Homo sapiens: one gene and its partner. The protein of the gene in region 1 purifies or fractionates together with the protein of each later gene. This does not show direct contact. Each region holds a gene or a part of one and is shown on either strand. Other genes may lie near its edges. The genes, in order: PLCXD2 and KIF26A.

Evidence for each region.
Region 2: the proteins of PLCXD2 (region 1) and KIF26A purify together in Homo sapiens (affinity purification with mass spectrometry, with the first as the bait; one large-scale study listed by BioGRID). This does not show direct contact.

Annotation. Positions count from the first base shown.
Region 1 is NC_000003.12:111,712,474-111,716,280, forward strand, and holds part of PLCXD2 (PI-PLC X domain-containing protein 2), read left to right. Parts: intron 1-1,413; coding exon 1,414-1,655; intron 1,656-3,807.
Region 2 is NC_000014.9:104,136,881-104,141,458, forward strand, and holds the start of KIF26A (kinesin-like protein KIF26A), read left to right. Parts: upstream 1-1,706; 5' UTR 1,707-1,842; coding exon 1,843-1,884; intron 1,885-2,162; coding exon 2,163-2,408; intron 2,409-4,578.

The DNA of each region.
Region 1 (3,807 bases):
TCATGAGCCTGTGATTAACCTCATTAACACACCGGTTTACCACAGACGTCATTAGCAGTCAGTCAGACATTACTCAAAACCATTAGAAACAACAAGAACAGCCGTTACCCAGTTCAGTGCAACCAGCCTGGTGCTCCCCAGCTCTGGGCCTTGGGGAGCAGTTAGTCAGGCACCTTAGTCACGAGCTAAATGCACACCGGAAATGAGGCTGACATCCAGAGCTCTTGTTCTTGGGTGCCCGGGAGGATTACCCTCTGTGGCCAACTATCCGGGGATGGCAGTCCAGGCCTCGTGAGCATGTGCAGGGCATTCCTCCAGGAAAAGATTACTAGTGCCTGGGACAGGGAAAAATATATTCCTTTAGAAACCTTCACAGCAGAGCTCTGAATTGGGACGATCAAAATAGCAGTTTCCTATCCCACAGCTGCCTCCCAGAAACTAATTAATGCTGTGGATGTAGCTTGCTAATTATTTTCAACATCACCACCATCCTGAGCGGTCCCTGTGGAGGCCAGTTGCCTCTGCAAAGTCTCCCCTGACTCAAGTGGCACACTCCCCACTCTCCTGGGAAGGGCAGTTCCAGGCAGAGCCAGCACACACGATTGAAAGTCTATTTACCCACAAATTAGTTCAGTGTTTTTATTTCAACTCCAAAAGCTGTCAGTTTTGTAATTACAGGAGACATAACTTCTAGACAGCGCTTGCTGCTCAGCCTAAGAGTTCTCAGCCTGAGGTCCAAAGCTTCCCCAGAGGGATATGAGGGTAGAATTTAAGAAGTCTTTAAATTTGGATGGGAAAAAAAATACATATTCATTTTTACTAAAATTGAACTGAAAATTAGTATACCCATAGATTATGAGGGCAGGCGGTGACCCACAACAATCTTAGCCCTGCCTGATTTTTATCTCCCTAGATGCGTCCATCTCACATTTTGGTTATCGCAGATATCTGAGATACCACTTATGCTTATCCCTAACTCACAGTTATGGGACTTATTAGACTTACAACAAAATATTTTTATTGAATGCATTTATCATGCAGCACATACATTAATTTATTACAAACTTATTTAATATATTGATTGCTATATTTCCATATCATAGATTTTCTTTGTAATCCTGTATATTGTATGCATTCATTTAACATGTAATTCTGAGAAGGGGGTCCATGATTTTAATATACTTCCAAAGGTATTTATGCCAACAAAATTAAGAATTTTTGAGTCAGACATATGGCAAGTGCTCTGTAAATCTTTGCTGATTTCCTAAAAATATATATTAATATAAACAGTTCTTGACTTTCCACATATGATTATATTTTCTTGCCTTTTTCCTAGCAGTCCGTATAAAACGGAGGAGTTAACATTCAGCATTTTTATGGATTGCTCTCCTTTTTGTGTTTTGAATATTTCAGGTTCTTATTTTCTACCACTGTCCCTTCTACAAGCAGTACCCCTTCCTGTGGCCAGGAAAGAAGATTCCAGCGCCCTGGGCAAACACCACAAGTGTGCGCAAACTAATCCTCTTCTTGGAGACCACTCTGAGTGAGCGGGCCTCACGGGGCTCCTTCCATGTCTCCCAAGCGATCCTCACCCCCAGAGTGAAGACCATTGCCCGGGGCTTGGTTGGGGGCCTCAAGAACACGCTGGTTCATAGGTAAGAATTTGCTTCCACCCCACAAGGAAAGCTTTTTAAAAAATATTTATCTTGATTCTATTCTGAGTAAATCGCAGTAAAGCCATGTAGTCTGAGGAGTTAGAAAAACAACAAAACAAGCAAAAAACTTTGTATTCGAGAAAACCATGCAGTTGAGGTGGATTGTATTAACAAAGGCTCTCTAAACACTTTGTTCATAAGTACACATCATACCATAAATACTGTACTCTCTAAATTTTGCTATAAGGCAAAGCACATTGAGCCAACACCATGTCTGTTCACTCCTGGTACCTGGCCACATGGGGTCCTGCCTGTGCCTCGCAGCTGACCCAGGCACTCATTTAAGAAGCATTCAATATAGGCTGCTGTCCTAGGTGCTAAGGATTCAGAGCTGGCCCTTCAAGAATTTGTTCTCCTTTCCATGGTGACCATGAGTCACTGAAGAAGCAGCTTAGGATGCCACCCACCATGCCCATGCTGTAGCTTCAAATACTTCCTCAGGGCAGAATTGAGCCTGGTTGTACAATTAGATAGCAGAAGCTTCAGTAATTTTGTATCAGATGGTGTTCCTTATCCCGGACACCAATGAATGATAGATGTTCTCAAGAAAAAGGATGGTTTATTTGTATGCGTGTTTGTGTGTGTGCGCGCACATATATGTGAGTGTGTGTATGTATGTGTCTATGTACCTGTACATGTGTATGTGTATATGTATATGTATAAAAGGAATGTTATAAATACATTTGGATAACAGGGAATCCCTTGCAATCCAAGCTAAGGAAGCTAATACGTTTGGGTAGCAAAAGATATTTACAAGAATCAGTTTGGTCCCTGAGTTTCAGGTTGACGAGCAGAGTTCAGATAATGAAAGATTCATCCAAAAACATGTTTCTATTTATTTGGTCCTGAGTTTAGGTAACATGAGTTCAGATAACAGGAGTTCACCTAGCAGGAGTTTAGACAGCAGGACTAGATTTTTCTTTCTTGGTGAGAGCTCCTGATTATGTCAACCATGGACAAAACCAGAAAGTGTTTTCTGTGTGGCTCTACTAAGTCTTGACTGAATTCATTATGCTGAACTTGGAAAAGTGAATTTTATAAACCAGCACTATATCTCTTTGAAAGATCCCGAATTAGAAGCTTTATTGTTTTAATAATATGTTTGTGTATCCACACTGTTTTCCTCATGCCTCTGGTATATTTGTAGATCAACATTATTTATATATTCATTCAACAAACATTGAGCACCTAGGAAGAGCTAGGTACAAAGATTCAAGGTGAATATTATACTGTCTGCTGTCAAGGAACTCACAGTCTAGCAGCAGAAACTGGCATGAAAATTTCTATAAAGCAATGTGAAATACCACTGTGAAGAAGTCTGTGCAGACAGCCATACTAATAATGGAGAGGGAGTATTTAAAAAACTAAGGATAAGTTATATCTGTATACCATATTCTGAATATCAAATGGCTTTTTGCAGATGATTTCATTTGATTCTTAAATCAAGTCAGCCTCTAGGATGGCACATTGTCTACAGCATATTATCATCCCCTCTTTAGATGGGATTCAGGGAGCTTAAGTGACCCCAATCCATACAGCTAGTAAAAGTCAAGAATACCTCTCAGACTCTGGCCTTCTGATCGTTAGACCACTGCCCTTTTCAGCGTTGGACACTGACTTGGATACTGCATATTTTTGTGCTTATTCTTTTCTGTTCCACAGGCCTGCAGTTGTCTTATTAGTACCTGAATCTGGTAATATCTCACAGGTTATAACTAGTAACCCACAATGTCACAAAGCTTTTCATATCTGTACATTCCTAAAACTTTAATCTGGCTGCAAGTGAAACATTGGCTCTTTCCTTTATGATGAGAGATAATGATGTTGGCATGCGCCCAAAGCCAAGGGATCCTACTATGCCAGAGCCCTTGCACTACTGCTAGCAGCAAGCCAATGTCCCCAAGCTTGGAAAGATACTTTCTTTGGCATCTCGCCCCCCTGCCGGCCATAAGAATATTGCAAGTATGCATGCATTCCTAGTCCTGCACATCAACTGAAGGAGGAAAATATAGCTCTGGTTGAGTTTGTTCCAAAAGGCCAGTGCAGAGTGTGGCTGTCATTTCCTCTGGGCTGTTGAACAAACATAGGACCT
Region 2 (4,578 bases), on another chromosome or scaffold:
GGATGGGCGAAGTAGGGGGTCGGGGCCCCTGACTGATCGTGAGCCCCCGAGGTGACTCCAGCCTTGTGCACCCCGTGTTCTGCGGATATGGGATGTGAGCTTGTGCTTCCCGAAGCGCCGCGGCGGTAGAAGCGCTGAAGTTGCGGGTGTGGCTGGCCAGGGGCGCAGGACCGGTGCTCCCGACCGCTGCGTGCTTCTGTGTTGCGTGTGTGGGTGGGGGGACGGGATATAGAGAGTGTGTGTCCCGGAGCAGTGGAGCGGCGGGAGGCGGTGCTGTCTGCCGGCAGTGCGGGGTGGGGTTTGGGTGTTGTCCTCAGTACCCAGATCCAGATGTGGGCTGACGCCCGTTTTCATTCTCCAGGCTGCGAAGAGACGGGTAGGGGAAGCGCTTCCGGCCCCCCAGGCTGGGTGGAAAGCGACTGCAGGCTTACGGATCTCAGAAAGAGTGGAGAGCCCCTGCCACTTTATTCCATACCCCCTTGCGTTTTCGAACCCCTAAGGTCATCAACGACCCGGAAAGCCGGGAGGGGATCACCCACCCCACTTTCTGGGGAGTGCGTGCGTGGGCGGGGAGGCTTATCCAAGTAAAAGGGGGTGGGCAAAACGGAAAGGGTCACTTTGACGTACTGAGTCTCTGCGAAGGCCTCACCGTATGTGCCGGCAGCCGCGTGTCCTGGTCTCCGCCGGGTCACGACCTTCGGAGTTTCCGAGTGCGCCTCAGGCCTGGGACGCGCGGCGCTGTCTCCCCAGTCTCGGAGCCGTGTGCGCAGCGGCCGGCAGGGGGCACTCGCGTCACGGGGAGCCCGCCCGCCGCGCCCGCCTGGCTTGACCCGGGCTTTGGGGCTGACCCGGAGCCTGGCCCGGAGCTGCCTGCGGCCGCGGATGCCGGCGACATTTGGGGCCCGGCTAGGCACAGAGCAACTGGTCGCCAGGGAAGGGCGGGGGGGCGGCCTCCCAGCCGGAGACAAACAAGCAATTAATTCCGGAGCTGAGTTCCCATCTGCCAGGCCTGCTGACAACAGGTCCGGCGCACGCCCGCAGGACCTCCCGCTTCCCGGGCGGCACGGCGCGCACACCCACTTGCGGGCACACGCGCGGCTGTAAAGACACGTGCCGTTCGCAGACGCGCCGAGGCACAGATACGCCGGCGCGGTCGCTGCCCGGCTCGAGGCGCACACCGCGGCGACACTAACCCACGCGCGACAGTTAGACCTAAAGTGGCCCGCGACACGCAGAGTACGCTGGGCTTGCTGGAAAGGCGCCTGGGAGTCTCGGGGCCGGGGTCCCGCCCCTTCCTCGGCCCACCTCGCCGTGGGCCTTGGGCAAGAGCGTCCCCTCCGCAGCCTCAGTTTTCCCGCCTGTAGAGGGAGGGGCGTCGGCGCCTCCTGGGAGACGCGCAGCCCTGGTGTCCCGGGAGAGGGGCGGGAGGCGCATGCGCGCGCGCAACTAGATCCTCGCCGCCGCCCCCAGCGCCCCTCCCCGGGGCAGGGACTCACCTAACAGGTTGGGGTCCTTGGAGTGCGCGGGGCCGCGTGGGGAAGCGGGGACCCTACCCCCCCCACGCGCCGCCCAGCACTGGGCAAGGGCGGGGCACTCTCTGGGCTCCCGCCCCTCGCCGCCCGCCCCGGGAGCCCGAGCCCCGCCCTTCCCCGGCCCCGCCCTCGCCTCCCGAGCGCGCCCACCGGAGCCACCGCGCTCCTCGCGACACTCGCAGGCTCTGCGAACTTCCGAGCGGCTGGGCCGGGCCATGGGGGCGCCTCGGGGCCGGATCACGTAGCCGCGGCGCCCCCGGAGAGCCAGCGTGGCCGGGAGCGCCTGCCGGGCTCTTCCCGCGCCCCGGCCATGGTCGGCCGCGGCGTCCCTCTGTGCGCTGCGCAGCCCGCGGTACGCGCGGCCCGGCCTGGAGAGGGAGGCGGGCGGCGGGGGCCCGGGACGGCGAAGATACTCGCGGTGTGCGCTGGATCCCTGGGGGCCGGGCCTCCTGCTGAGGGTAGCGGACCCGCAGGCGGGACCTCCGGGGATGGAGGGAGTGGGTGAGCGCCAGGGTCGTGCCCAGGGCTCCTAACTTTGGCAAGAGCGTCACGCTGGGGCAGGGCGCGCAGGGGTCTGGATCCGACGGACGTCCCAGGCTCACTGTCCGCTTCCGCCCCCACACCCTGCAGGTGGCCGAGGGCGGCCCGGCCCGCGAGCCGCCGCCGCTGCTGGAGGTGTCCCCCCGAAAGAGGCTACCCGCCGGGCCCGACCAGGACCCATGCGGCAGCCGCCCTGCTCCCGAAGGCGCCGGGGCCGGCCCAGAGCAGGGCCACTCGGCCGGCGGAGGCGGCTGGTGCCGCCACTGCCACACGAAGCTGGTGGAGCTCAAGCGACAGGCGTGGAAGCTGGTCAGCGGGCCCGGGACCACCCTCCGGGTAAGTGACACTTCCTTAGGCCGACCCCTCCGAGCAGGGCCACGCCGAACTTGGGTAGAACTTGGGGCTTGGAGGGAAGCAGGGTTCCACTCCTTCCCTGCTGCTGTTTCCACAAAGAGTTATCAGCCAGGACTTCCCTTCTGCGGGCCTCAGTTTCCCGGTCTGTAACACCATGTGTGAGCTAGGGAGCTCAGCCCGAGGGGCCCTGCTGCCTCGGATGGGAGGGGCCTGGGCTGGCGTTCCTCCCCCAGCCCAGATGTCCCACAGCTGGAACGCAGGTTTGTGTGGGAGGAGGAGGGGAGAGAGCGGATGGCAGGGACTCCACCCAGGGCGGGACAGCTCCAGCCCTACCAGCAGGGAGAGGTTATTTGGTGCATTGTGGCCCTTGGGGCACCTGGGCCCCCAGCCAGGTGTCTGGAAATTACATACCTGGGGCCGGGGGGCCTGGCAGGTGAAAGGGTGGGCCACAGCAGCTGGGGGGTCCCTGCCTACTCCTCTCCCAGCCTCAAGGATAAGAACTGTTGTCCCATACCTCCTGGGATAGACTGAGGCAGTGGCCGCCCATGGGGAATTGAGTCGGGGCCCTCTGGGTTCCCCAGGCTCCAGCCCCAGGGGCAGGTGCTTGCAGGGGAGGGGTTCTCCTGGATTTCCAGCCAGTGGGCCTGCCGGCTTTGGAGGGAGCAGGGACCATTGTTCCAGGAACAATGCATGCTGGAAGTTTGCAAAGGCTGGGGGCGGGTGGGGGTCTCCAGAGGAAGCCCGCTGCCGGGCCTTCAGCCTTTATGAAAGAGTTCCTGGGAAGTCCGCATAATCCCCATTGAATCTAAATATAGTTCTCTAAGGGCTGTGGGGGTTGGAGTGAGCTGAGACCCTGACTGCCCTGTCTGGGGCAGGGCAGGGTGGGGCAGGGTACCAGTCTGGTTTCTGTCCTGGGCACCGTCTCCGGGCTCTCTGGAGTCTCGGCGAGGGATAGGATTGCTGTAGCCTCTCTCTGGCTCAGGCCAGGCGCCTGTGGGCCTGTCCTGGGGTGGGGCTGGACCCGCCCTGTCCTCTGCTCTGGACAGGCTGCAGCCTTGGCCATACTCTGTGCCCCAGTGGCCTGTATCTAGTTTAAAAGGTAGCAGGAGACCCTTGAGGGCCCCCTGGAGAGGGCCAGCCAGAGCTAAAGGCCCATCTTGCTGCCCCATTAGGGGAAACACGCCAGAGACAGGAGGGGCATTAAGATTGAGCTGGTCTCCTCATTCTTGGAGTGGGCTTGGACTGCTGATGCTGCCTGGCCCTGGGGCCATGGTCCTGGCATGGACTCGTGGAGGGGAGGGGGCTCCTGGTCACGGGCAGGCCAGGGGTCCTAGTGGAGAGGGCTGCAGGTGATACTAGTCCCTGGTGGATTCTAGGTTCCTCATCTAGGGGGGTGTCTTGGTCTCTTCTGGCAGACAGGTCTTCAGGGGAGCCCCAGACCACCCATCTCCAGCCTCCCCTGAGCTTGGCCTTTGACACTGGAAACTCCTCTTGAGTGCCAGCTGGGGGCTCCCCCTTCCCTAGCTGGCGCTGGCACTCAGCACACCGGGGTCCCGGGCTGGTCTCAGCCAGGGCTTTGTTCTGCTCTGGGCCCCCTTCTTCTGCTTTGTGGTCTCCTCTGTCACCTGGGGCCTGTTGTGAAGTGCTGTCCCACCTGCAGGGTGCTGTGCCCCCGGGAGAGAAGACCCCATCCTCCACTGTCTCTCCACAGGGCATGGGGGGCTGCACCTGCCATCCTGGGGCCTTACGGGTGTCATTGTCCTGTCCCCTGTGCGGGCCTGGGCTGTCCCCAGAGTCCCAGCAAAATTGCAGCCTGCAGCCCTGGCCTGGCCCGCTGGGCCCAGATGTGTGGACATGGCTGCTTCTGTGTTTGGGTTGGGAGGGAAATCTCTGGGGTGGCCAGGGAGACCCCAGTGTGCTCCCCGGAGTCTGGTGCACTGTCCAGTGGGCCCTGGCCTCTGCTCTGTAAGGCCAACGTGGCAAGGGGTATTTAGGGTTGGTGTTCTAGGATTTCCCCAGGGGCCCGTTTCGTATTTTTTAGGGGAGAGATGAGCTTCCTTGAGGATAGCTGTTTACAGGGAACTTCACAATCATCCATCTGTCTCATGCTTGGATCTTCAGAAGCCCAGAGAAGTGGAGAGACTTGCTGGGA